Linked DNA regions of Homo sapiens. The protein of the gene in region 7 purifies or fractionates together with the protein of the main gene of each other region. This does not show direct contact. Each region holds a gene or a part of one and is shown on either strand. Other genes may lie near its edges. The genes, in order: VRK2, RPTOR, VPS13C, TRO, INTS7, ACAD9 and FAF2.

Region 1 (3,525 bases), on a different chromosome or scaffold from region 7:
CAGGAGTTGCCAAAATTTGGCTTGGCTAGTTGCCTGTTTTGTGAATAAAGTTTTATTGGAACAGAGCCACATCAATTTGTTTATGTATTGTCTATGTGGGCTTTTGCACTACAATGGCATTGTTGAATAGTTCTGACAAAAACTGTATGGAAAGTAAACTGAAAATATTTTCTTTCTGGCCTTTTAAGAAAAGGTTTGCTGACCCCTGCTCTACGGCATTATTCTTCGAGTATTAGAAAGCAAACAGATCATCATAACTTGTTAAAATGCAGATCTCATTCAAAAGGTCTAGGAGTATGACCTGAGATTCTGTATTTCTGAGAAGCTCCAGATGATGCCAATACAGCTGGTCTGCACACCCCACTTTGAGTAGCAAAGGGCTCAAGGCAATGCAATAATCTACTGTGATAGAGCATTGGTTCTCAGCCTGGGTTGATCCTGCCCCACAGAGGACATTTAGCAATTTCTGGAGACATTTTGGGTTGTTACAGCTAGGAGGAGATACTATTGACACCTAGTAGATAAGTACTAGGAATGATGCGAAACATCCTACATCACAGGACAGCACCCCCACAACAAATAACAGCTCAGCTCCCAAATGTCAACAGTGCAGCTGTCAAGAAACCCTACATTAGAATAGTTATTAACTTTGAATGCACATCAGAATCGACTGGGAAGCTATGAAAAATAGCAACACTACTTCCACTCTGGCCATGAAAATCTGATACCAGACTTCCCCTTCTGCTGTGAAAACCCATAAATAAATAATAGAAAACAAAATTAGTCAAAATATGTGAAATAACTTAGGGATCTAAAACAAAGCTCAGGAAGGGAAAATAACACAGACCTAAGAAAGGCCACAATTTAAGATTTACTGCAGACTAGGCCAAAAAAGCCTGAACAGAACTTATAAAATGATCAGGTTTAGTCACCAGTAAGTTAACTGTCTGCCAGAACTAACCTCAAAACTCTTTAAAGGAATGCAATAAAATCTGGAGTCTAAAGACCACAGCATCCACAATGTTCAGTATACAATAAAACTACTACAAATGAGATGCAGGAAATGTGACCCATAACCAGGAGAAAAAATTAACAGAGATTCAGGGCTGATCCAGATGGTACAATTATCAAACAAGGACTATAAAACATCTACATAAATATGTTCAAGGAATTAAAGTTGAACATAATTAATGAACAGATATGGGGGAGGTGGAATCTCAACATACAAAGAAATATACTTGTGGAACTGAAAAATACAGGGTATAACATGAAAAATTCATTGGCTAGGTTTAACAGCTGATTTGACAATCAACTAGAGGTCAGGCAAAAACAAAACAAAACAAAACAAAACAAAACAAAAAAAACACCACCACCCAACCTGAGGTACAGCAACATAAAAGACTGATTTAAAAAAATAGTTATTTAGCTGCCTATGAAAAAGGTAAAGTATTCTAACATGCATGTATTTGGAACTCAGAGAAATAAGAGAGATTAAGGCATGAAACAAATTGATGAAATCATACAAAACCTTTCCAATTTGAAGACAAATATCAACCCACAGATAAAAGCAGCTCTACGAACCCAAAGCACAATAAACAAAAGACAGCCATCCTTACAAAACCAAAAATAACAAGCAAATCTTGAAAGCCACAGAAAGAAATACATTATAAATGGGCCAATAAGAATAACTGCTAACTTCTTAGCAGAAAAAAAAACAGACCTATGAAGATGGAAACATCCTTTTTAAAGTTCTGAAAGAATAGATTCCATATTCAATGAAGCTTTCAAAATCAAAGTGAGGGGCATCCAGTTATAGACAAGAAAGAGTAAGCATCCCACCTTATTCTGGTAATTAAAGAGTGGACAAAAAGCACCTATCAAAACACTGAAAATTCTAAAAATGACCCTCCCTTGAGTCTCCACCCGCCATGTACTTTAGTACCTCCTATTACCCCAGCCTGGGCCATAAAAGAGCCTGCGTTCTGGAAACAGCAATATGCACAGACTGGAAAAAAAAAAAAACAAACATGAAAAACATGCTCTATGTAACCAATAGCCCTGGGGGAGGACAGGTCTACAGGACAGAATCTTTTTATACCTGCTGAACCCTAGGTGAACACCATGAAAGAAGCTGTACCTTACTTCTCTCCAGGTGCTGTGGAAACGGGGCGGCGGGGTGGGGGGGATGGTGGGGGCGGTGGGGAGGTGGCAAGGGTGGGGTGAAGAGGGAGGGTACAGTCCTGTTGAGTATCATCACCCTACACTAACCAGGGAGCACACCTACCCTTCCCCCATCAAGCACTGTGGAGACAGGTAGAGCCCTGTTGACCGTCCTCACACTAACAAGGTGATACCCTATCCCACTGGGTGTTAGGGAAATTGTGAGATAGAGCTCTGACAACCTTTCCCAGCCTGTACTACTGAGGTGGTCCCCCTTCCTTCCCACCAGGAGACTACCAAAACTGTAAGGCAGAGCCATATAGCCTGTTCCTCCCTGCACTAACACAAGCAGATGTGGTACCTGTCTTCCTCCCCACCAGACACTGTAGAGACCGTAGTAGAGAGCTACCAACCTTCTCCACCTTGCACTGAGCAAACATCAGAGCAACAGCAACCCTCCACTCTGGCCTCAGAAACTGGAGAGGCACTTGCCCTTTTGACCGTGCCTGCTGTGCATTAAACAGCAAAGAGTTGGCATCGCACATCTCCCTAACTAGAAAGCTCTGTTCTCAGTAATTGATATAACTACTAGAGTGAAAATCAGCAGGAATATAAAATAAATCAGTAACATCACAAGATAATGGGATCTAGCTGATATTTATAGACTACTTCACCCCCAAACAGGAAAATACATGTTCTTTTCAACTGCAACTGGAACATTCAACCAGGCAGACCGTCATATCCTATCCATAAAACAAACCCTAACAAATTTATATTGTTAGACCATAATATAATTAAACTAGAAATCAATAACTGAAAAAAAAATCTTCAGATACTTGGGAATTAACACATTTCTAAATAAGGTATTAAAAGTCTCAAGGGGAAATATATTTTGAAGTGAACAAAATTGAAATGTATAAATATTTACAGGATGCAGTACAAACAGGGTTTAGCAGGACACTTATAGCATGGAATACTTACATTAGAAAAAATAGTGGGTTCAAATCAATAGCCTAAGCTTCTACCTAAACTGGAAAAAAGGGAAGAAAATACACCAAGATCAAGATGAAGGAAAGAAATAATAGGAAAATCTCCAAATGCTTTAAAATTTAAAGACCCCTTTAAATGGGTCAAAGAGACCCCAGGAAAATTAAAAAATACATTGAACCGAATGGAAATAAAAATACAACATATCAAAACATGGGACATAGCTAATGTCATGCTAGAAGGGAAATTTATAATACTAAATATTTGTACTAGAAAAGACAAAAAGTCCCAATTTAATAATCTGTTTGCACCCCAAGAAATTATAAAAAGAAATGACAAGTATGTGACATGATGGATTTGTTAATTAGTGTGAGTTAA
Region 2 (4,242 bases), on a different chromosome or scaffold from region 7:
CTCCCAGCTCCAAGTCCAGAGACCTCAACAGTTCTTTAGGCAGAGCGAATGGAAAGAGGGCAACAGATTAGGGCCTTTATGTTTCTTATCTAATGTCACTTCAAGGCCCTGCCTGACATTTCTGACCAGCCACCTGATATCCTCAAGCCCTTCTTCCTAAGGATGAGGCCCACTTTCTTCTAACTACACTAATAACTCTCAAACATCTGGCAGCAGGGCCCCTTTACGGTCTTAAAGGTTCCTGAAGACCCTCAAAGAGCTTTTTTATGAGTTTCATTTATCAACATTTTCCGTATTGAAGGTTAAAACAGAAAAACATAATTGATATATTTATGAATTCACTTAAAAATCAAACTTATTATATATTCAAATAAATAACATTTCTACAAATAACTATATTTTCAAAAATTGTCAGTTATCTTGTCACTTGTCTCAGGTGGCTTTTTTTAGATTTTTGCAAATCTCTTTAATATCCAGCTTCATAGAAGACAACTGGATTCTCATTTTTTTTGTTGTTGTTGTTGTTTGTTTTGTTTTGTTTTGTTTTGTTTTGAGACAGAGTCTCACTCTGTCACCCAGGCTGGAGTGCAGTGGCGCAATCTCAGCTCACTGCAAGCTCTGCCTCCCGGGTTCACGCCATTCTCCTGCCTCAGCCTCCCAAGTAGCTGGGACTACAGGCGCCCGTCACCTCGCCCGGCTAATTTTTGGTATTTTTTAGTAGAGATGGGGTTTCATCGTGTTAGCCAGGATGGTCTTGATCTCCTGACCTCATGATCTGCCCGCCTCAGTCTCCCAAAGTGCTGGGATTACAGGTGTGAGCCACCGCACCCCACCTTGGATTCTCATTTTTGGTGCCACATTCAATGGGTTGAAATACACTGTTTTGGTTGAAGTATGTGAGAAAAATCTGGCCTCACAAAGATACATAATGGCAGGAGTATCAGAATATCCAAATAATTGAGAATATTATTATTTGATATTACAACAAAATTGAGTAAGTGGTAGTTTCTTAAAGATCTGTTGCAATCTATTTGAATAAAATATTTAAACTCTCACTATAGGCAACATAGTGAGACCCCATCCCTACAAAAAATCCAAAAAAAAAATCTAGGCATGGTGACTCACACCTGTAGTCCCAGCGACTCAGGAGGCTGAGGCAGGAGGATCACTTGAGCCCAGGTCAAGGATGCAGTGAACTGTGAAACAAACAAATAACAACAAAAAATATACACACACGCACACAACAGAACATCAAGCGGGGTGTGGTGGCTGACCCCTGTAATCCCAGCACTTTAGGAGGCCAAGGCAGGTGGATCACCTGAAGTCAGGAGTTCGAGACCAGCCTGGCCAATATGGCAAAACCCCATCTCTACTAAAAATATGAAAATTAGCCAGGCGTGGTAGCAGGCACATGTAATCCCAACTACTCAGGAGGCTGAGGCAGGAGAATTGCTTGAACCTGGGAGGCGGAGGTTGCAGTGAGCCGAGATCGCGCCACTGCACTCCAACCTGGGCAACAGAGCAAGATTCCGTCTTAAAAAAAAAGAAAAAAAAACACCTATCCTCTGGTGAACTTTTTGTACCCTATTACATTAAAATCCACTGGTCTAACATTGAACGGATCTTTTACCTATGGATGATTTTATAATATCATGGATTGGTCATCTGGAAATATTTGTTCACTGAATTATGCAGCTGTTCCAAATGTGGGCACATTTCATTCTACAACATTAATTCCATTCATTAATATCACTATGGATCTCACCAGAAACATCTTTAAGTCTTGGGAAGCTGCCAGGCTCACAGCGGCAGATACAAGTTTTCCAAAACCAATTTTCACTTGAAGGTTCAAATTTCATGACTGGCAGCAAATACTGTCAGCTGTATTCCTTGAAGTGACAGCTCACTAAGTTCATTTTCAAAAACACGTCTGCCGTGGACACAGGCCTCAACATCCAGAGGCGGCCTGTCGGTGATTCCTTTGGGACGTGCTGCGTCCATGAAGGCAGCAGATGCTCCTCCTCCAGGCAGCCACTGGGCTTTGCCTGCAGGAGAAGGAGCAGCACACACAGTCTGAAAAAGATGTGTGCTTAACAGTCAAGATTTAGTAAAAGTCATCATTTTCACTGCTTTATTAGCAAGGACATTCTCTCCATGTGCATGGCAAAGAAATCAGGAACTAGTAGTACAGCTTGGCACCGCTGTCTTGATTCATCACTTTTGCACTGTCAGTGCAGGTATCAACAGAGTGGAAAAGGCCAATGGTGTTCCATTATTATGAAAACAGTTTTGACCTTGTGGATCCCTGCAAGGGTCTAGGAGAAGCCCCAGTGCACAGGGCACATGCTGTGAGCAGACTGAGCATCCTTCTCTGTCTGCTGAATGTTGGTCTGCTGGTCTGCTATTTTCAACCCCCTGACCTCTTAACATAAATGTTTCAGTGGAGACATTATGATACAGTTTTGTTTTGTTTTGTTTTGAACTAAACTTTGTTTCTCCCTCTGCACAGGTTCCACTTCCTCTCACTGCTAGCCATGTTACTTATGTAACTTTAGGTAAGCCATTCAACTAAAACGTCAGTTACCTCATCAGTAACACGGAGAGAATGATCCCTAGGTAATTTATGGTGCTGTTGAGCCTTAAAGATAATGTATGTGGAAGCCTTTTGTAAACTATCCATTTTGTATCAGTATAGTTTTGTTGAATCCCTACTATGTGCCAAGCACTGCCCTATGGACTAGCATAGACTAGACTAGGTCCTTGCTTTATGATGAAAAGCTCACATCTCCAGGAGGAAGTAGGGAGAAAAATATCAGAGAAATAAATAGCCATCAGGAGGGTTTATGAGTGACAGGGTGGCTGCTTCAGATGGGGTGATGGTGGGCCTCTCTGAGGAAGGGACCTAGATGCTAAGTATGAACGACGAGAAGGGGCCAGGTGTGCAAAGATCAGAGAGAAAAGCATTCCAGGAGTTTCTATCCAAGAAGCAGAAAAGGCAGGCAGAGGCCAAATCATGAAGGCTTTGTGAACCAGCAAGAGGAGTCTGAGTTCTACTTTAAGCACAGAGGAAGCCAATGGAGACCACCAGTAAGGAAGTAACAGAATCTGATTCACACTTTTGTGGGGAAAAGCAAGAGAGATCAGATTGTTACTGTGTCTGTATAGAAAGAAGTAGACATAGGAGACTCCATTTTATTCTGTACTAAGACAAATTCTTCTGCCTTGAGATTCTGTTAATCTATGACCTTACCCCCAACCCCGTGCTCTCTGAAACATGTGCTGTGTCAAACTCAGGGTTAAATGGATTAAGGGCGGTGCAAGATGTGCTTTGTTAAACAGATGCTTGAAGGCAGCATGCTCCTTAAGAGTCATCATCACTCCCTAATCTCAAGTACCCAGGGACACAAACACTGCGGAAGGCCACAGGGACCTCTGCCTAGGAAAGCCAGGTATTGTCCAAGGTTTCTCCCCATGTGATAGTCTGAAATATGGCCTCGTGGGAAGGGAAAGACCTGACCGTCCCCCAGCCCGACACCCGTAAAGGGTCTGTGCTGAGGAGGATTAGTAGAAGAGGAAGGCATGCCTCTTGCAGTTGAGACAAGAGGAAGGCATCTGTCTCCTGCCCGTCCCTGGGCAATGGAATGTCTCGGTATAAAACCCGATTGTACGTTCCATCTACTGAGATAGGGAAAAACTGCCTTAGGGCTGGAGGTGGGACATGCGGGCAGCAATACTGCTTTGTAAAGCATTGAGATATTTATGTGTATGCATATCTAAAAGCACAGCACTTAATCCTTTACCTTGTCTATGATGCAAAGACCCTTGTTCACGTGTTTGTCTGCTGACCCTCTCCCCACTATTGTCTTGTGACCCTGACACATCCCCCTCTCGGAGAAACACCCACGAATGATCAATAAATACTAAGGGAACTCTGAGGCTGGCGGGATCCTCCATATGCTGAACGCTGGTTCCCTGGGTCCCCTTATTTCTCTCTCTATACTTTGTCTCTGTTTCTTTTTCTTTTCCAAGTCTCTCGTCCCACCTAACAAGAAACACCCACAGGTGTGGAGGGGCAACCCACCCCTTCACACTTTCAAAAAATCCCTCTGGCCAGGTGTGATGGCTCACGCCTGTAATCCAGCACTCTGGGAGGCTGAGGTGGGAGGATCACTTGAGCTCAGGAGTTCAAGACCAGCCTGGCCAACATGGTGAAACCGCATCTCTACTAAAAATACAAAAAAT
Region 3 (4,242 bases), on a different chromosome or scaffold from region 7:
TGAAACTGACTCCACATATTCTTTTGTTAAAGATGAGTCACTTAACCTGTGTTCCAATTTCCTCTCAATAAAGAAGTAATATTTTTCTGACCTGCCTTTCTCTGGCATAGGGAGGCTAACAAAGAATGTTTTACAAGGCTTTTGAAATACTACTAGAACAGAAGCTGATGGAATCTGATGGCTAGTTAAGTGTTTATTATATTAATATTACTTATTTGAAGGTGTTATTGGTTTAAAAAATAGAAGGAGAGAAACATTTCCAGGTGGCACCTCTAATAGGGATCAGTTTAGACTTCAGGGTCCTCTTAGATTGCTCGTCAACACATAATCACCAGTTGGGTGACACTGAATAAATAGCTATGCTCTGAGGAATGCATAAGAGACAAATATTGTAGCTGGCTTTGAGTAATTTCATGGCGTAATTCTAAACTTTTCCCCATGCTTGGACTATACCCTGAAAGAATGAATGCTGAACTCCATGAAATCAAAGTGAAGCATGGTATATTTTTGAAAATAAGACTTTTGCGAAGCATTACTATAAAGTGATCAGTTTAGGAGAACTGAACTCCAGCATTTTTATTTTATTATCAACTGGCTAATAATTTAAATTTGCTGTGTTATTTTTCTTCATAGGTAAAGAAGAACCCAGTTCAGGATAAAAGTTTGCTGCCAGGAGATGATTTTATTCCTGAGCCACAAATGGCAATTCATATTTCTTCAGGAAATACAATGAATATAACAATATCCAAAAGTTGTCTTAATGTTTTCAACAATTTAGCAAAAGTATGTCTGAATCTTGCTTAGAATATTTCAAGTGGAATTTTAAAATGAAACATATAATTTTTTTGTCATCAAAATTAGTTTCCAAAAAATGTGTAATTATGGTATAGGTTTTGGGAAGAATGTATGTTTTTCAAAAATTTTACTGTGATGATATGTTCCTTTTCAGGGTTTTTCAGAGGGCACTGCTTCTACTTTTGACTACTCTTTAAAGGACAGAGCTCCTTTTACGGTAAAAAATGCTGTAGGTGTTCCCATTAAGGTGAAGCCCAATTGTAATCTCAGAGTAATGGGCTTCCCTGAGAAAAGTGATATTTTTGATGTTGATGCTGGCCAGAATTTGGAACTGGAGTATGCCAGCATGGTACCTTCAAGTCAAGGGAACCTATCTATATTGAGCCGTCAAGAAAGCTCCTTCTTCACTCTGACCATTGGTAGGCTATATTTGTTTTCCTTAAGGGTATCTTAGCAGTTGTTGGTGTGGGCTTATTTTTGATAAAATGTGAAAAAACATTTTGCTGCAGATATCTGGAGATACAACATTTGAAACATATAATTGCTAACCTCTTGTTTCTTGTTTTCTAAACTTGAGAAAATTAAACTTTATTGATTTAAGAAAACTTTACAAAACTAGATTATTTTTGTGCCCTTAAATAATGTATATATTATATAATATATATAAATATTATATATATAATGTGTTTTTAAAAGGATAGGAGTTTACTGAGGAGAGAAAATAGCTATATTCAGAAGTCTTACAGTGTTGACACTGTGACAAAGAAAAAGATTGTTGCTATATGATTGAGAGAATAAGAAATAAGTTGGATTTTGTTTTTATATTCAAAACCCCAAGCAAAACTGTTTTCAGCCAAAAATTTTATAACAGTAACTGGTCTTCTTTTTAAGTTTATGTCTTAGAAAAGCAATTTGTGGTGATCATTTCTAGTGATGAGGAAAAATACTCTTCATTATTTTGAGGTACTAATGATTGTTATAGAGAAACATTGGCAAATTAATATTTGGAATTCTTTTCACTTATGCACTGCCTTAGTACCTCATGGATATACAGAAGTTGCAAATATCCCTGTGGCCAGACCTGGACGGCGATTGTATAATGTACGGAATCCCAATGCCAGTCATTCTGACTCTGTCTTGGTACAAATTGATGCAACTGAAGGGAATAAAGTAATTACCCTTCGCTCTCCTCTACAGGTAATACTTCAAAGTTAATTGTATCCCTTTCAGTGTACCAAGAAATGGTTAAATCATTTAGCTGAATATAGGAATACAGTAAAACTTCATCAGGTCAATTCTGATTATTCAGAAATAAATAGTAATTATTCAGAAATAAATAGTAACAGAAATGGCTTCTATTTACTGTCCAGCTTGCTCTGATAATATTTATTTTAAATGTCTGTAGTTTTGTTTACTTAAAGCTCATTTTTGTTTTCTGTCTTTTAAGACAAATGCAAAATTAATAAAGCTCTTTTGGTATATTCCTTTAAATATTCAGAACCGAGGATTATTGTAATTGTAGTTAGGAAACATTCCATTCTCTTTGTATGTCACTTGGATTATATTTTTCAAGATATGTATGAAGGCATATTGGAATGATCTATCCCTCTGAAAAACATTTTAGCATCTTAATCTGTGTAAATATTTTTTCTACTTTTAAGGTTTTATCCAACATTTTTCTTTTTCTGTGTATTACTACAGGTTTCAGCATATGGTCAACAAAAGAACATTTTTTTTCCTACCTGTAACATCAGATACAAATGAAAAGGTTTCAAATTTTGGACATTGTTATCTTATAGTTTGTTATTTGCTCCAATGCGTAACAGACTGATGTCAAGAAAAGAATTGTACTATTTTTCTCATGATTTTTTGCTATCCATTTCTGTTTAGTTGTTATACATGATACATTGAGAAAAGATTGTCATGGAGAAAAAATGGCTTAAATCTTCAGAGAATAATACATATTTGAAAGATAATATAGACTAATACTAAACATAAGCTTATAATATATGGAGCATTTGAATATCTCAGTTTTCAACTGACACTTAAACATTAAATTTAATATATATAGCACTTAAATACCCTAAAATTTTTCAATTGCCAATAAAAATATCTTCCAATACTGAGTTTGAAATTTTTTAGATCTAAAAGTATTTGTTTGTGGCTCTCATTTTTTCTTTCGAACTTACATATCTTTTAAAAAACTTGTATTTTTTTTTGTCCAACAGATCAAAAACCATTTCTCCATTGCATTTATCATCTATAAATTTGTTAAGAATGTTAAGCTATTGGAGCGCATTGGGATAGCCAGACCTGAAGAGGAGTTCCATGTTCCTTTAGATTCATATAGGTAGATACTTCTTAAATGTATTAAACTTTAAATGTATTGAGTTGGGGATTTATATTCTGGCAAATAACTTCATATTTTTATTAACTAAAGATCAGTAAAAGCCAGTTTTAAGACATAATTTAGTCTTCCATTGAGAAATACATTTATATTATCATTGAATTTATCAGGTGAAAATTCCTGACTGTATATTTGATGTCAGGATTTTTCTGACTATTTTTATTAGATTGCCTTTGTATTTGAAATGAAAATTTTTTTAAGTTGTCTTGTTTACAGAGTTGTTTTTTGTTTGTTTGTTCTTTTCAGAAAGTCCTCCGTAAGTTAGCTATGTGATTTTGGGTGAATTTCCTAACCTTTTTTTTAGCCCTGGTTTCCTCATCTGTATATCTGTAAAAACAGGAATAATAGCACCTATCTTGTAGAGTTGTCAGGAAGATTTAATGAGATGCTTTTTTTTAAGTTGTGGATCAAAACTTTATTGTCACTGTTTCCTCTTTCTGCAGATGTCAATTGTTTATCCAGCCAGCTGGAATCTTAGAGCATCAGTACAAAGAATCTACCACTTATATTTCCTGGAAGGAAGAACTTCATAGGAGCAGGGAAGTCAGATGCATGTTGCAGTGTCCATCAGTAGAAGTCAGCTTCTTACCTCTCATAGTGAATACAGTTGCTCTGCCTGATGAATTGAGCTACATATGTACACATGGGGAAGACTGGGATGTAGCTTACATTATTCATCTTTATCCTTCTCTCACTTTGCGGAATCTTCTCCCATATTCCCTAAGATATTTACTTGAGGTATGTCTCTTGCATTTTGTTTGATTTTTGTTGTTGCACAGAGTAAATTCTGATTTTGTTTTATGGTATTTTTAAGTGAGGTCAGTGTTTTATATAGCGTATGTGTAATGTGTAATGCCTTCATAATGTTAATGATAGCAAAAACTGGCATAACATTTACTATGTGCCAGGAACTGCTCTGTGTGCTTTACATGTATTAGCCTATTTACTCTTTATAATAACCTCCTGATGTAGGTACTATTATCAGGCCCATTTTACACATAAGAAAACTGAGTTGAAAATGGGTTAAGTGACTGGCTCAA
Region 4 (4,242 bases), on a different chromosome or scaffold from region 7:
CTATGAGAAAATAAATTTGTTTTTTAATCCACCCAGTCTATGGTATTTTGTTATGGCAGCCCATGCTGATTAATACAAAGTATGAAGAATGAATGAGATGATGTAAACTATATATCTAGCAGCACCCTGGGACATAAAGGAGGCTCCACATGTTTATATATGAGCTGCAGGCTGCTCTGTACCTGCCCATCCCTGTGCATTGCCTGCCCCAGCCAAGGGTATCCCATTGCCTTAATATGCCAAGCTCGGGCAGCTCTCCTCTTACCCTGCATGCAAACTTGAGGACTTTCATCTTGCTAGTCTCGTGGTAGGAGCGCAAGCCCCAGAAGAACTCATATTCAGGTGGTCTGCTGTTAGGGACCCTCTTGTACTCCAGGTACCTTGGAAAAAGGAAATGAAACTTGTTTCTAACCAAGCAACCCTGCTGTCTAAGCACTAGACACCAGGTGGCAACCTCCTCCAAACAAATACAAACAGCCCCTGGAGAGGGATTTCTAAGACCCTCCAGCCCCAGACTCACTACCAAACACAGTTTATGGTCTTGGCCTCCAATACTGAGCCATTTCCCACTGGCCCTGTGCAAAGCAGTCCCTTGGGCTTCTCCAGGGGAGACATGTATAGGGCATGATGTCACAGGAAGGCCAAAGTATCATGCCACCTGTGAGGAGTAAGCCCAGATTCCTGTTGGGTGTGTTGTAAACAGAGGAGCCATTCTTAAGGCCCTCTGCTCTGAGCGCACCCCACTGCAAGGGCCTTGTGTTGAGTCTGGCCCAGTCCTGGAAAGGTCTGCCCATGGGAATTTTAGACAGTATCAGTTCTAGGACACAGGATGCCCATCCCTCTAAAGCTAGTATAAGAAAGGCACTGACTAAGCACTTTCTGAACCAGATCAGTATACCCAGAACACTTCAGGGCCAGACAAAGCCCCAAACACCACTTACTTCTGCTTCACAAACTCGTCTGTGATGAGCTTCCTCACTTCCCCAAAGAGTGAATGCCTCACCCTGACAATGGGAAAAATAACCCATGAACACAGATCAGAACTGCCCAGATGAGGGCAGAGGCATTTCCCAACATGGAAGAGACCTCTCTAGCACATGGGGCAGTCTCAATGAAGTGAAGAAAGTAATGAGCACATGGCCACTAGAAGCAAGCAGTTAAGACCAGATGCCTCTTTGTCAGGGATCCCTGAAGGTCTATCTAACATCTCAGCTTAGAACAGACAGAGGACATTAAGGAGAGAGACAGCAGAGAGTTCAGGACCATTTGCCCGTCATCCACCCAGGTCAGAACCCTGGGCCCTCTACCCAGTCCAGCACCCCACCCGCTCCACCAGACCACCAGACTGATGCAATCCTAGGACCATCCTCTCTTGCCAAAGGACAACACGGACAGCAAGCGCTGAGAGAGCCCAGTCATACCCAGGGCGCAGCCCCAACTTGCGCAGCACCTCCCAGATGACAGCTGTGAGGGGAGGCAAGAGGAGACAGGGACAGAAATTGAACACATGGAATCCAGACCATGGCCGCCCATTCAGCTGCATGCCCAGCCACTCACCCTCACTGGCCTTGTTGCCATTCATAAAAATGACACTCAGAATCACCATGAGGAGACCCAGCTTGGGTGTGTCCTTGGTCCTAAGGGAATAACAGGACAGAAAGAAGGTTTATGTTTCAACAGGACAGAAAGAAGGTTTATGTTTCAGCAGCCATCCGCAAAAGATACACCAGCCAGCTCACCAGGCTAACCTCTCCCAGATTCCTCAGATACAGAATTCTGCCCAGTCTCTGCTTCCAGCTCTATGCCACCCTGGGCAAGGCACTTAGACCTTGCAAGCCTTGGTCTATTATTCAGTAAAATGGGAAAATCATATTCTCCCTTCCTCAGGTTGCCAAGAAGATGGAAGAATGGCTGTCAACCTGGTACAACACAAGCACTCAGTCAATGTGAGTCCCTTCTTTCTCTCCCAGAACCTTCAGCCCCACTGACACTCTTGCGCTTCATGCATACTGATCCAGCCACACCAGGAAGCCCTCCTTGAGAACCACTCTGTCAAAGCCAGGCCAGGCACTCCATCGGAAGAGGCAAGCAATGACAGGCCTGCTTTCCTGGGAAGCTTCTACAGAGACAGCAAACCTGACAGCAGGAATGTCCCACCCTAGGCTCCTATACCCTTCAGTCAATCATAATCAGGTGCCACTACTGTGAGCAGGGCTCCAACTATGTGCAGGTGCTGAGACAGGGCTTTTGAGACCCTGTTTTTCCTGACTCTCTAAGAGGATGGGGGAAGTAGGACAAAGAAGGGGTAGCAGCACAGATAAAAGCAGAAGCTTCCTTCCCACTCCAGCCCTTTCCCAGCTTACGTTCCCAGTATGCCTGCAGAGGATTCCTGAGTGCTGATGAGAATATACAAGCTACTTTGCTTATCAATTTCTTTCAGATTGACTCGAAACATCTGCCAAGTAAAAGAATAGCCTGTGAGATCACAAAATTCAGCTTAGGTATCAGTGAACTTTCCGGGCATCCTAAAACTCCCAGTGTACTTAGGGGGTCTGCATGTGTAAGAAGTCAGTGAGATAATGCACATAAAGCACATAGCCAAGTGCCTGGCACCCAGTAAACACACAGCAAATGTACTATTGTCATCAACATCATCTTTGTGATGAGCAGGAATCTAGGGAGACAGAAAATGGGGATACAAGGGAGAGGTGAGATCTGAAATACATGCAGAATATGTCCAACTATGAATAGAAGCTGAGACTAATTTGAGTGGCTTCTGTCCTAGCCATGTTTTCATCACTGACATGCTGTGTGACCCATGGCAAATCTACACCTCTCCCTAGGCCACTGTCTGCCCATTCACACAGTAATGGGGCTGGATTAGCATGTTTCTGTGATTCTCTCCAAAAGGGACATGTATGTCTTTGCTCGATTCAAAGCTTCCCCATTGCGCCCATCCGCCAGCACTGCCCCTTCACCTTCTCCAGAGTGTAGCTTGCTCGTTCAATGATTTCTGGGAAATATTCATCATATTCTTGGATGACATCCCTCAGCATGTCTGTAGAAAAGGAGAGGTGAGAGTAGCTGAGCTTAGCAGGGGCCACAGAGCTGCAGCCCTTTTGCCAGTCCTGTTGGGTCAGTGCAATCAGAGACCTGAAGTGAGTTAATGGGAGATGCCAGCCATGGCAGAGTGCAAGGAGGGCAGGTGTGGAGATATGACAGAACAAAGAGGCCATAAAGTGTTACTCCCAGACTATGGGAGGAGAGGGGAGTGGAGAGGAGAGCTCAAGGAGGAGGGTTGGTAGGACACTACCTGAGCGTTTGATGGGGATCTTTGTCTGGTCCTTAACCAACAGGTATTTCACCAACTTATTAGCCTGGGAGGAGAGGAATAGATGGAGAGATCTTAACATGCTTGCAGAAAACTTGGAAGGAGGCAGAGAAGAGGGCAAGTGAAGAAGAGAAGAGACTGGACAGCATTGGATTCTTACCCTTTCTTGTAAAATGGCCACATCTCGCGGTGGTGCAGGCCTCCGGCCCCATGGGATCCGCCTGTAATTACTGCCACTTCTCTCATCCCCATTCAGATGCTTGGACTTCATCATCAGAAAGAAGGAAGGTCCAGAGTCACCAGGTGAAAGAGATGGCTCTGTCTCCTCACCTTGCCTGCTCCAGACAGAAAGTCCCTCTAACCCCCTCCCTCAGCCTTGCTGTAGTGGAGCCTGATCCTGACCTTGCCATTGGCCACCCTGAGTCCTGAGCTTATCTTTCACTGTCTTCCAGGAAGGAGTTTCGTTCCTCTGCCAGGCCAGGAACAACTCAAGATAAGAGCCTAAGGGTCTTTCTCTTCCTCTGGCTACCACCAATTATGCTGGCTGGTACCTCTTGGACAAGTCACTTCATTTCTCTGAGACTCAGTTTTCTTAAGTGTAAAACTGGGACCTATGATCCCTTGTTGGTAAGAGTTACTTTCAAGACATTCAGACATACCCTGTGTAACTGTACCCAACACAAAGCCTGGCACGTGGTAACTACTATTTAAATACAAGTAGTATTACATACAGGTTGTAGCTGAGTGTATGGATGTCTTATTTCCTCACCAATCTGTGAACTGCTAGGGAGCAGAAACTATATCACCTTCTTCTCAGCATCTTCCACAGCCTATCTGAACACAGGGACTAGCTCAAAGTAAAACTTTTATAGAAGAAATGAACAAACTAGAAGGGTAGAAATGGAAAAGAA
Region 5 (4,242 bases), on a different chromosome or scaffold from region 7:
AATACCATGTTATTTGATATCCTCTATGACTGAACTACTTTTCCAAATCTCAAATTATTTCACCCAGCCACAGTGGGCTAGTCACCATTCTTCCACCACAACAGGTACATTCTTACTTTCAAGTCTTTTATAACAGCAGTCATTGGGCTCAAACAATCTTTCCTCATTACTGTAATTCGATTCCATCTTTCACAACTCAACTCATATGACATTTATTTAAAGTCTTCCCTAATACCCTTGGTTAAAGTTAATCACTCCCGACTCTGACCTCTCATTAGAACTGCACTTTTTTTGTGAAATATCAGAGAATGTATTGTGTTCCGCTTGGTATTATAGTCCCCTATATAAACATCAGTAGCCTATTCTAGATGGGAAGCTCCTCTATTACAGGAACCTTTCTTGGCCATCTATGTATGTCCCACTGTGCTGAATCCAGCATTTTACTGACACCCACAATTGTTGGAAAAAAGATTTGCTTTTAAAAAAAGTCTTAAATGTACTGTGGTTCCAAGGGGATTCTGAGGATCCCCCTCAGAATGTGTTGCCAAACACATGTTGTCTACTTCCCTTCTCTACTTCTTATTAGCTGTCACTTAATGATGTTACTATCTTTATTGTTCATCACTATGACCATATCACAACTTTCCTTAACCTGCTAAAATGAGCCATGACTTCCTTGAAACCACACCTTAGACAAGCTAACGCCAATGTTTATCTAACAGTTTCTTACTTCTATTAACTATGCTTCTCCTCATTAATTTTGCACCATCACAAATTATATTTCACGTTTCACTCCAAAAAGAGTAGTTTCATTTCACATTTTATTTATTTATTTTTTTTGAGACAGGGTCTCATTCTTTCACATAGGGTAGAGAACAGTGGTGCAATAATGGCTCCCTGCAGCCTCAACCTCTCGGCCTCAAGCAATCCTCTCACCTCAGCCTCATGAGTAGCTAGGACTATAGGTGTGCCCCAATATGTCCAGCTAAATTTTAAAAAATTTTTCTAGAGATGGGGTCTCAGTATGCTGCCCAGGCTGGTCTTGAACTCCTAGGCTCATGCAATCCTTCCACCTTGACCGCCCCAAAATGCTGGGATTATAGGCATGAGAGCCACTGTCCTGGCCTCATTTCACATTTTAAAAATCTTGCATATCTCTAAGATGATTTCTGTAACTAAGTGAAGGTGAAAATTCCTTAAAATATTCTTCCCTTGGCTTATAAACTAGGGCTTATACCACTGGGAAATTAATGAACGCTTATGTTAAATTAATGAACATTTATGAGTCGGCTGCAGTCATGTCATCAGTTTTTTTGTGGTTTTATCAGTTAGATTAAATCAGTGTAGTTTTATCAGTTAGATTTAATCACTTAGATTAAAACTTCTAAGAGTACAGGAGCTATGTCTGCTTAACTTTGCTTTCTATTGCCTAAGACCATCATATATATCTATTACAACTTAATAAATAAAAGTTTTCACCTTTAAAGTGGCCTGAGCACCTGGACTATCATCTTGACTACAAAGTACCAGTAGGGATTCCAGGCCAAAGACAGCATCTTGTTCCAGTGCCAAAAGATCTAGAAGAAAAACAGTAAACTTTATGATGGTCAAGTGATGTGTGTACAAACACACACACATATACATGCATACACACTCTCTTAGAAAAAACATTAAGGAGTTTAAGATATAGGGAATTATTAAATGGATGAACCTAACCTTCCTTGAAAAAGTACATGTGGCATTACTTCTAGAATGTAAAGTCTATCTTCAGACTTTATTTCTACCACTTTATTGAAGTATTTATAAAAATATACACATTAAATCAAGAGCTAAAGCCACAAAGCTATAAATAAAGCAAAACTGAAATAGTGTCACCAGCTTAGCTAAGGAAAATACTAAGAACAGCAAACTATGCAGTATGTGTTAATCTCCCTAATCAGAAATAAATTATGCAGGTCCATTTTTACCTAAGATATAACAGTTTTCAGCTTCTAATGAAAGCTGAACCACTTTTAGGAAATAATAAGGTCTCCACATAACCTTATTACTGTTTTAAGTCTGACCATAAAGAATGAACCTCTTAGATGTCTCATGAAATAGCAGCACTAGAACATCTTTTCACTACCATAGGGTTAAAATTTCTCTGAAGGTTTTAGAAAGTTCTGAATATATTAGTTACCTTTAGGTTAATATATTTCAGTGTTGAGAACATACAGCAGTTTTCTGTGTTACATGGAAGAAAATACTCTTTGTGATGCCAATATAAAACAGGCTTAATTATCCAAATCAGAATCAACTTTCAACTTTAAGAAATGTTTCCTGAGTGCAGGAGCTTGGCAAACAGAGTAAAGGCTAGTGAAGGTCAGGTTGCTAGAAAAAAACAGGTACTAGGAACAAGCAGTGCTGAAGGCTAGGGGGGATAAGAGGAACCACTGAGCTTGTAATCCTTAATGAAGATCAAAATCAGCACTGAAACAGATGGAATATCCAAAATGCATTTCTTGTTCTTGAACACAAGTCAAAAGATGTTAGGTAGACAACAAAATATGTGCATTATTTTCCTTGCATGTCCTCCTTGATTATGCAAGTCAGTTTAATGCCACATATACCTAGAGTAAATTCTGTGAAAATTTAATTCACATTGGTCTGTGAATTCACTTGCCTCTAGGTGAAACTATTTGTTATTTAAGTCCCTGGAGAACCTAAGTAAATTTTCTAGGTTTTTGTATAAGTGAACATACCACCTTATACAAAAGGGGTAGAGTCCTAAGCAATCTTTATCCACCATATATGCACCATATATGCAAAGGTAAGCAGTGGAAGGAAATGGGCAATGCTCCATAAAACCTTTCAATTCCACTCCCAAGGTCTTCATCTCTTTATTATTTTTCACAAGGATAAAGTAGTCTTAAGAACACATGCTCTAAGAACACTTTGAAAGGAGTCAATTTGTAGATCAAGGCACACAGGCTAAAAATAAGGGATTAAAAAAAAATCAAACAGAATTCTGTCCAAGGTCTAAACCAAAGTTTATACGTAATATCAGTCCTGATCAAACTTACCCTTTTCTTGACAAGAAACAGTTATATTAGTTAGGACTCTAACTCCATGAGCTGCAATGCCCCTGTTATTATGGTAACAGCACTCTTGGGCTAATTTGACTAAATCAGAAGATCTGGGAGAAGAACTCACATTTCCTAAAAAAGCAGAGAAAAGTAGTAGAAATTGTAATTCAAATAGTTCAAAAGCAGTTCAGCTCATAGGTTCAATTTTCTTAATTTTTGAGAAAAGTCTCTAACAATAAACTTCAACAAAATTTCCTACCACAATCCCACTATCAATACATATCAGCATTTCTCTCCATTAAGGTACTTGAAATAGGTATGTGCCAACAGTTTCGTAATGACTAAGATCTAAAATCAACGTATAATTTCTTAAAAAATATTAATAAAAATTGACTAACAGTACAAAAGCCAAAACAACTATCCTAAGAGTTCAAATGAATTCTGATTAAAACAGGTATCATTATAGGCCTCTTGTCAGACAAAACCATACTTTCAAGATAGGAGAGAAAAGAGAAAAAAATTTAAATTTGCTTTTTTTTTCCATCTCAGATTGCTGACACACATTTATACCTCATATGAATTCGTGATTGTAGAGCTGGAAAGAATTTTGGGATCATCTGATTTAACACACCCTATTTTTACAGGTGGAATCAAAGCCCAAAGCCCCAAAATTTTAAGAATCTTGCCATTAAGTTCATAAAACTTATCAGTCATGTTCTAATGCCCCTGTTATTATACTCTTCTGCTTTATACCTTAAATTCCATGCTATAGATTGCAGCAATTTTTAAAATTCACATTTGAAATTCTGGAATGCAAGGTTCATGTTGTAACTATTGTAATTTACAGTAGAGAAGCCCTCAGTTATAACTGAATAAGCTTCAAGAAAACAAGGAGATTAGGGCTTGTTCAACTACTTAAAAGAGTCTCCCATTCCTGTCTTCTTTTCCTCTGCTTATTTTTCCATGATTCTCGTCAACTTCAACTTTGTTTCTCATACCAAGGGTGACCGTATTTTTTGAGGCTGAAAGAGACGCTACTAAGAATTACAATAGACATAAACCATGAATATCTGTGGTGACATGGGACCTATGGTCACTTTGTTGATTTCTGGTTTAATATAATACAAGTTTAAGAGAGAGCCTCAGTGTTTTTTGGGTTTTTGTTTGTTTTGTTTTG
Region 6 (4,242 bases), on a different chromosome or scaffold from region 7:
GTGGATGACAAGATGGAGGAGGCTTTCTTTGGAAAGGGATATCCTTTGCCCAAGACCACTAGTCTGGGAAATGAAGGAACTGATATGAAAGTTTTGGACACAGACTGCAAAGCACTGTGGGTTGCACAGGCTCACGGCACTGGCATGTGCGCCCTGACCGTCTCCTCAGCAGCTTGGCTCCCTGGGCTCTGCCTGTGGCCGCTTGCTCTGAGTTCTTGCTGTCTTCTCTTGCCCGAAGTAAATATTTGCCTCAGAAAGGAAATGTTTCACAAACACCTCATGCTCTCCTTTCTCCCCACAGCTGACATTAGTCTGTGTCTGTTTTGTTTAGGGGATCATCTTGGCTGGCACTGAGGAGCAGAAAGCCAAATACTTGCCTAAACTGGCGTCCGGGGAGCACATTGCAGCCTTCTGCCTCACGGAGCCAGCCAGGTCTGTCTCTGCACAAAACGTTATCCCTCAGCAGCTGTGATGTTGCCCAAGATTCACTGGGGCAAGGGGCTGTTGGTTTTGTTGAGTAGCTGACTTTTCCTTCTTTCCAAAATCTTGCAAAGAATCAACTCAGCAACTGTTCTTGCCATTCCTCTTATCTTGACCTTATTTCTCTGTCCCAGTGAGACTTGCAAGTGAGATACCACGCTTGACAGCACTTATTAAATAAATTTTTGTGGTTTACAACACACCTTGACATACAATATAGTAATAACGTTCCGGCTTCAAAGCACCTTTCAGAATATATAGCGTGGGTGGTACTGCTCCCACTTACACATTAGGAGCTGAGGTTCAGTGAGGCTGTGTGATCTGCTGGATGGAGCAGGGCTGCGGCAGCACTCGGGACTCTGATGATAAGTCCATCACCTGGACCATCCTCCATCCTGCTTCACTTTGCATGAGAACCTGGGAACAGTCATCCTTCCTGGGGTGCCCAGAACTCATCCTCACAGGACCTCAGATGAGCCCATTGCAAGCACCCATTTCCATGTTTAAACCTAAGCCCAAGTTGTTTTCACTGCCGCTTTTTTACGTGATGTATTGAAGCAGAGGTCGGCTAAATCCAGCCTCCTGCCTGTTTTTTATAAATAAGTTTTGTTTGTTTGTTTTTGAGACAGGGTCTTGCTGCGTCACCCAGGCTGGAGTGCAGTGGCTCAATCTCATCTCACTGCAACCTCCGCCTTCAAGCGATTCTTCTGCCTCAGCCTCCCGAGTAGCTGGGACTACAGGCATGCCCCACCACACCCAGCTAATTTTTGTATTTTTAGTAGAGACGGGGTTTCACCATGTTGGCCAGATCTCAATCTCTTGACCTCGTGAACCACCTGCCTCAGCCTCATGTTCTATTAATAGCAGCAGAGTTGAGGAGGTGAGACAGACATCCTGCAGCTTGGAAAGCTGAATATGTTATCTGACCCTTCATTTTAAAAGTTTGCTGACCTCTTACAAGTACTAAAACCTCCATTTTCAGGCCCTCAAAAGCATTCATATTTATTCCCAGTATTCTCCCTTGACCACATCTTTCTGCATCTGCAGTGGGAGCGATGCAGCCTCAATCCGGAGCAGAGCCACACTAAGTGAAGACAAGAAGCACTACATCCTCAATGGCTCCAAGGTAGGGTTCCTTCCCCATGGCCACATTAGGGTCTCAGTCACAACCTTCACTGCCACTGAGTGAGCACTCTCCACACACCAGGGATTGTACCTGCTGCTGTAGCACCGACTACCTTCTTGAGCTGCTTTTATGTGTTTGTTTTTAATTTTTTTTAGTTTTTTTTATTTGCGATGGAGTCTCTGTCACCCAGGCTGGAGTGCAGTGGTGTAATCTCAGCTCACTGAAACTTCTGCCTCCCAGGTTTCCAATGATTCTCCTGCCTTAGCCTCCTGGGTAGCTGGGATTAGAGGTGCGTGTCACCACTCCTGGCTAATTTTTGTATTTTCAGTAGAGATGGAGTTTCACCATGTTGTCCAGTCAGGTCTTGAACTCCTGACCTCAAGTGATCTGCCCACCTCGGCCTCCCAAAGTGCTGAGTTTACAGGCAATGAGCCACTGTGCCCGGCTTGTAAACCCAAAAAATCTTTAAATTTTTTGTTACACAAAGTTTCAGACATATTCTGTGTGCCTGGCTGGCCCTAACTCCGGCAGTCACCTGCTTATGGCCACTGTGCCTCTTCCAGCAGCATCGCCACCTCCAGATCGCATGGTAACAATCTCAGCATGCCTCTCTAAAAGACAGGAGTTTTTTTTGTTTGTTTTTGTTTTTTAATAAACACAAAGCCGTAATACCCTTATCACATTTTAAAAATTGATAATTTCTCTTTTCTTTTGAGACAGGGTCCCGCTCTGTCACCCAGGCTGGAGTGCAGTGGCACGATCTTGGCTCACTGCAGCCTCAACTTCCTGGGCTCAGGTGATTCTCCTACCTCAACCTCCCAAGCAGCTGGGAGTACAGGCACACAGCTAACTCTTTGTATTTTTTTTTTGGTAGAGATGGGTTTTCACCGTGTTGCCCAGGTTGGTCTCAAACTCCGGGGCTCAAGTGGTCTGCCCACCTCGGCCTCCCAAAGTGCTGGGATTACAGGCGTGAGCCACTGTGCCCAGCTAATAATTTCTTACTTCTATCAGCATTCAAATATCCCTGATTGCCTCATACCTTTTTTTGGTTTAACTGTTTGCTTGAATTAAGATCCACACAAGTCCCATCTGTTGCTGTTTGTTAAGGAGTCTGTTTCTGCCTCTGTCTCCCTCTGTTTCCTTTCCTCCTCCTCACCACCCTCCCGCCTTTTTTCATTTCTTTGTAGAATTAACAAATAAATGTTGTGTGTATTTACATCTACAACATGATGTTTTTATATATGTATACCTTAAGAAATGATTAAACCCTTTCTTTCTTGAAGAAATGCAGTTGTCTGGCGGTGGAGCCTGAGCTGTCTGACAACTTTGGGTGTTCTTTCCCCCGCCCCCGCCTCCACCTGGCCATCCATGTCCCTTGGGAAAATCCTTGCTCTGGGGAAAGTGGGCTGAGCCCTGTCCTCTATTCACTCATGCTTGGTTGGCTTCTGCAGAGCCAAGGACCCTGCATGTCTGGCCTGAGGTCTGACTGGCAGCTGGAGCTTGATGGACAAAGACAGAGCTGAGGTGGGTCACATAGGGGTTTGGTTTTCTCCAAAGTCCATCTTTCTGTCCTCAGGTCTGGATTACTAATGGAGGACTGGCCAATATTTTTACTGTGTTTGCAAAGACTGAGGTCGTTGATTCTGATGGATCAGTGAAAGACAAAATCACAGCATTCATAGTAGAAAGAGACTTTGGTGGAGTCACTAATGGGAAACCCGAAGATAAATTAGGCATTCGGGGCTCCAACAGTAAGTAGCTCCTGTGCGCGCGTGCGCGTGTGTGTGTGTAAGGGGGAGACTGGCCTTTGACGGTGTGTGTGTGTGTGTGTGTGTGTGTGTGTGTGTGTGTGTAAGGGGGAGACTGGCCCTTGACTCTGTCCAAATAGCAAGATAAAATGAGATTTAAACACTTTCAGTTTTTGTTAAGCATTTTAAAAAGATCAAATTAAGAATGCCACTTGGGCTTTGTCTTTGTTCCTGCAGCTGAGTGCTGCTCACTTGAAGGCCTGCTGGTCATCCCCTGCTGTAGCTGCCCTAGCAGACACACCACCTTAGAGCTCAGCTTACAGTCCCCAGCCTTTAGTTGTCTCAGTCTGCAGTGCCTGGCAGCCTGCTTCAGGCTGTGAGTTGGGTTCAGGTCCATCTGGGTTCAGGTCCATCTGGAGGCTTGTTCTTAGAGCAGATCATAAGCACCTAAGGGGCCAAGCCAAGCCATATAAGTACTATTTTTGCCGTGGGAGACATAGTCTCCCTCTGTCACCCAGCCTGGAATGCAGTGCTGTGATCTCAGCTCACTGCAACCTCTGCCTCCTGGGTTCGAGTGATTCTCCTGTCTCAGCCTCCCAAGTAATTGGGACTACAGGCGTGCACCACCACACCTGGCTAATTTTTGTATTTTTTGTAGAGATGGGGTTTCAACATGTTGCCCAGACTTGTCTTGAACTCCTGAGCTCAGGCAGTCTACCTGCCTCAGCCTCCCAAAGTGCTAGGATTACACGTGTGAGTTACCATACCTGGCCACTTTTTTTTGGTTTGTTTTTTTTGAGACGGAGTCTCGCTCTGTCGCCCAGGCTGGAGTGCAGTGGCACTATCTTGGCTCACTGCAAGCTCCGCCTCCCGGGTTCACGCCATTCT
Region 7 (3,500 bases):
CAGTGGCTAACACCTGAAATCCTAGCACGTTAGGAGGCTGAGGCAGGAGGATTACTTGAATCCAGACTGGGCAGCAAAGCGAGACCCCATCTCTACAAAAAATAAGAAAAAATTAGCTAGGCATGGTGGTACATGCCTGTAGTCCCAGGTCCTTGGGAGCCCGAGGCAGGAGGATTGCTTGAGGCCAGGAGTTCGAGGCAGCAGTGAGCTCTGATTGTGCCTCTGCACTCCAGCCTGGATGACAGAGCAGGACTCTGTCTTTAAAAAATAATAAATGAATGAATAAACAAAGACAGGCCTCTGTGCTCAAGAATGTATATTGTGGCATTTAGAATAGCTGAATATAATATAAAGAACTTCGATGTAAAAAAAAAAGTGGAATGGTTATAATTCCTCTCCATTACATAAGTTATGTACATTAATTATAGGAAATCCTAAAACCACAAAAAAGCACAAGGAAGAAATTTAAGATCACTGATAAACCTACCACCACTTGAACATTGTTATAAATTTTTTTAATTTTATACACAACACACACCCCTATATACGTACACATTTATTTGTAAAATTGGGATAATACTTTTTTACAACCCTTCTTTATGTAAGAATATATCACGGCCTTTTCCCTCATCATTAAATATTCTGCCACATTTTAAAAATTACTGCATAACATTCCATTATCTAAATACATCATAATTTAACCAGGCCACTCTCGTTGGATTTTTAGATTATTTTCGGTTTGTTACTATTATAATTAGCATATAGGGAGATAATTTTTTGCAATTTGTGATGGTTTCCTTAGATTAAAATTTAAATTCCTGGAAGTGCAGTTTCTGGGTGAGACAATCAATATAAGTATATTTTAAGGCTCTTGATTTGTAATGCCAACTTGCCCTCAAGAAAGTTAAACAAACTTAAATTTTATGGAAAGTTTTTAATAACATGGGGACATGCTTGTTACATATTAGAAAAATGCAGAATCAGGCCGAGCATGTTGGCTCATACCTGTAATCCGAGCATTTCGGGAGGCTGAGGTAAGAAGATTGCTTGAACTCAGGAGTTTGAGGTCAGCCCGGGCAACATGGTGAAACCCCATCTCTACAAAAAATACAAAAATTAGCTAGGCGTGGTGGCACACGCCTGTAAGCTGAGGTGGCAGGATTGCTTTAGCCTAGGAGGTTGAGGCTGCAGTGAGTCATGATCGCACCACTGCACTCTAGCCTGGGTGACAGGCTAGCCCTGTCTCCAAAAAAAAAGAAAAATGCAAGATCAAAATCCTGTAAATAATAGCGTTATTTTAACTGTGTAAAAAAATGTATAGAACAGGAAACTTTCCGAGGTAACTGAAATGTTCTGTCTTGATTGGAGTGGTGATTACATGGTTACATTTATCAAAATTCATTGAATTGTACATTTAAGATCTGTGCATTTCACTGCATGTAAATTTTATCTTAATTTTTAAAGATAAAATCTGTTCAACTATTTTGATTGGCTAAATATTTTGGCTAAGAGAAAACAGAAATTTGTTGGAGAGAAAATAGGAGATATGCCAAATGTTATAATGTTTTATCTTTGATTAGTGATTCTCTGAATGACTCTGAAAACTCTACATTTTCAGATCTGCTACAATGTGTGTATGGATATATATGTGTGTGTTTTGGTTTTATGAGATCAGTACAAAAATGCAGTCACCCAAAATGGTATTTACTTGTAAAATATGATATTGATGATCCCTTCATAATAACAGTACTGTGTCACATTTGTTAGAATTAGGGGAAAAGTTTTATTTTAAAAGAGGAGAGGAAAGCTTGCTGTTTCCTTTTCTGCCAAATTAAACTGAGAAAAAAGGTGGCTTATTCAGATTCTGCCACGCTCTGCTTTTGGAATCCCTTATGGCAGTGTGAAATCGTCATCTGCTAAGAATATCAACATTTTTACACACACACACACACAGAAGATTTCAATATAAGAAAACACAGAACTTTGTGAGAGTGCTGTTTTTCTTCTCTTGCTTTTGATCTATTCACAGGGAAGAAAGAAACCAGACCCAAGTGCTGAGACAACAGCAGGATGAGGCCTACCTGGCCTCTCTCAGAGCTGACCAGGAGAAAGAAAGAAAGAAACGGGAGGAGCGGGAGCGTAAGCGGCGGAAGGAGGAGGAGGTGCAACAGCAAAAGTTGGCAGAGGAGAGACGGCGGCAGGTAATGGACGTGTGGCTTTACTCCCTGTGGTTCCCAAACTGCCGAGACTTTGCCATCTTGGTCTTAAGTGTGAAAGGAAAAAATGATAGCCACCTTAAACAGACTAAGAGGGAAAAAAAAAAAGGAAAAAGGAAAGAAAAAATTACAACATGTTGGAATTAGGGGTGATTTAAATTTTTCATACCATTTAAATATTCATTCTTTTTTAAATAAAAATTTAAAAAAAGAGACGGGCTTTGCCATATTGGCCAGGCTGCTCTCGAACTCCTGACCTCACATGATCTGCCTGTCTTGGCCTTCCAAAGTGTTGGGATTACAGGCGTGAGCCACCATGCCTGGCCCTAAATATTCATTCTTAATACCAGTATTAGCTGATTTGGCATTTTACTCATTATCTTTTTGTTTTTGTTTTGTTTTGTTTTGTTGTTGTTTTTGTTCCCTAGCAATCAGACTGAGATATACATTATCTTATTTGATTATGTATTACCGCTTACCTATAACCAGTGTCTTTTAGTCATTTCCTTTTATTTCTTTTTTTTTTTTAAGAGACAGGGTCTCACTGTGTTGCCCAGGCTGGCGTGCAGTGGCTATTCACCAGTGCAATCATGGAGCACTACACCCTGAAACTCTTGGGCTTAAGAAGTCCTGCTGTGGCCTCTGAAGTAGCTGGAACTACAGGCACATACCATGGCACCCTGCTCCCTTTCTCCTTTTTCTCAAATAAATACCTAGACATAATAAAGAATACATGAGATGCAATTGTACTTTAAATTTAGGTTGTTTTTGACTATTCCTGAGAGGTTTTTCTTAGAATACTTAGTCATTAATTTTTCTTCTGACGACTGCGTAATAAAGCTACATGGTCATTGTATTTATTTCTTGAGCTGTAGCCTCACCTTTGCTTTGTGTCTCTGCAGAATTTACAGGAGGAAAAGGAAAGGAAGTTGGAATGCCTGCCCCCTGAACCTTCCCCTGATGACCCTGAAAGTGTCAAGATCATCTTCAAATTACCTAATGATTCTCGAGTAGAGAGACGATTCCACTTTTCACAGTCTCTAACAGTAAGGACCACCTAAGTTCTGTGAAGTGTATGTAGCATCTGGGCTATAGATTTGGAGCTTTTACTGACTCTTGAGAGTGGTGTTGGTGTATCTGCTGCTCTGATGAACAGGGAACAGAGAGAGAGAGAGAGAGATGGGTATGCCATCCGTGGACACCAGGAAGAGTACCGAGGACTGCTGTAGGCTCCTTCAGTTCTAGTTTCCAACTCAAAGCAATTTTTAAGTTTTTGTTTAATTA

The links.
Region 1: the proteins of FAF2 (region 7) and VRK2 purify together in Homo sapiens (affinity purification with mass spectrometry; 4 studies listed by BioGRID and IntAct, with this or other methods). This does not show direct contact.
Region 2: the proteins of FAF2 (region 7) and RPTOR purify together in Homo sapiens (affinity purification with mass spectrometry; 4 studies listed by BioGRID and IntAct, with this or other methods). This does not show direct contact.
Region 3: the proteins of FAF2 (region 7) and VPS13C purify together in Homo sapiens (affinity purification with mass spectrometry; 4 studies listed by BioGRID and IntAct, with this or other methods). This does not show direct contact.
Region 4: the proteins of FAF2 (region 7) and TRO purify together in Homo sapiens (affinity purification with mass spectrometry; 3 studies listed by BioGRID and IntAct, with this or other methods). This does not show direct contact.
Region 5: the proteins of FAF2 (region 7) and INTS7 purify together in Homo sapiens (affinity purification with mass spectrometry; 3 studies listed by BioGRID and IntAct, with this or other methods). This does not show direct contact.
Region 6: the proteins of FAF2 (region 7) and ACAD9 purify together in Homo sapiens (affinity purification with mass spectrometry; 3 studies listed by BioGRID and IntAct, with this or other methods). This does not show direct contact.

The regions. Positions count from the first base shown.
Region 1 is NC_000002.12:58,154,419-58,157,943, reverse strand, and holds part of VRK2 (serine/threonine-protein kinase VRK2), read right to left. Parts: intron 3,191-3,525; coding exon of another isoform or gene 3,174-3,190; exon of another isoform or gene 3,142-3,173; intron 1-3,141. UniProt on the Homo sapiens protein: Serine/threonine kinase that regulates several signal transduction pathways.
Region 2 is NC_000017.11:80,551,054-80,555,295, reverse strand, and holds part of RPTOR (regulatory-associated protein of mTOR), read right to left. Parts: intron 1-4,242. UniProt on the Homo sapiens protein: Component of the mechanistic target of rapamycin complex 1 (mTORC1), an evolutionarily conserved central nutrient sensor that stimulates anabolic reactions and macromolecule biosynthesis to promote cellular biomass generation and growth.
Region 3 is NC_000015.10:61,917,039-61,921,280, reverse strand, and holds part of VPS13C (intermembrane lipid transfer protein VPS13C), read left to right. Parts: intron 1-633; coding exon 634-783; intron 784-949; coding exon 950-1,214; intron 1,215-1,831; coding exon 1,832-1,992; intron 1,993-2,496; coding exon of another isoform or gene 2,497-2,559; exon of another isoform or gene 2,560-2,917; intron 2,918-3,023; coding exon 3,024-3,145; intron 3,146-3,645; coding exon 3,646-3,940; intron 3,941-4,242. UniProt on the Homo sapiens protein: Mediates the transfer of lipids between membranes at organelle contact sites. Necessary for proper mitochondrial function and maintenance of mitochondrial transmembrane potential.
Region 4 is NC_000023.11:54,923,805-54,928,046, reverse strand, and holds part of TRO (trophinin), read right to left. Parts: intron 3,597-4,242; coding exon 3,492-3,596; intron 3,378-3,491; coding exon 3,314-3,377; intron 3,059-3,313; coding exon 2,979-3,058; intron 2,456-2,978; coding exon 2,364-2,455; intron 1,638-2,363; coding exon 1,558-1,637; intron 1,465-1,557; coding exon 1,422-1,464; intron 1,005-1,421; coding exon 942-1,004; intron 743-941; exon of another isoform or gene 612-742; intron 381-611; coding exon 266-380; intron 1-265. UniProt on the Homo sapiens protein: Could be involved with bystin and tastin in a cell adhesion molecule complex that mediates an initial attachment of the blastocyst to uterine epithelial cells at the time of the embryo implantation. Directly responsible for homophilic cell adhesion.
Region 5 is NC_000001.11:211,979,614-211,983,855, forward strand, and holds part of INTS7 (integrator complex subunit 7), read right to left. Parts: intron 3,198-4,242; coding exon 3,063-3,197; intron 1,578-3,062; coding exon 1,480-1,577; intron 1-1,479. UniProt on the Homo sapiens protein: Component of the integrator complex, a multiprotein complex that terminates RNA polymerase II (Pol II) transcription in the promoter-proximal region of genes.
Region 6 is NC_000003.12:128,896,105-128,900,346, forward strand, and holds part of ACAD9 (complex I assembly factor ACAD9, mitochondrial), read left to right. Parts: intron 1-331; coding exon 332-432; intron 433-1,527; coding exon 1,528-1,606; intron 1,607-3,182; coding exon 3,183-3,357; intron 3,358-4,242. UniProt on the Homo sapiens protein: As part of the MCIA complex, primarily participates in the assembly of the mitochondrial complex I and therefore plays a role in oxidative phosphorylation.
Region 7 is NC_000005.10:176,496,885-176,500,384, forward strand, and holds part of FAF2 (FAS-associated factor 2), read left to right. Parts: intron 1-2,029; coding exon 2,030-2,201; intron 2,202-3,118; coding exon 3,119-3,262; intron 3,263-3,500. UniProt on the Homo sapiens protein: Plays an important role in endoplasmic reticulum-associated degradation (ERAD) that mediates ubiquitin-dependent degradation of misfolded endoplasmic reticulum proteins.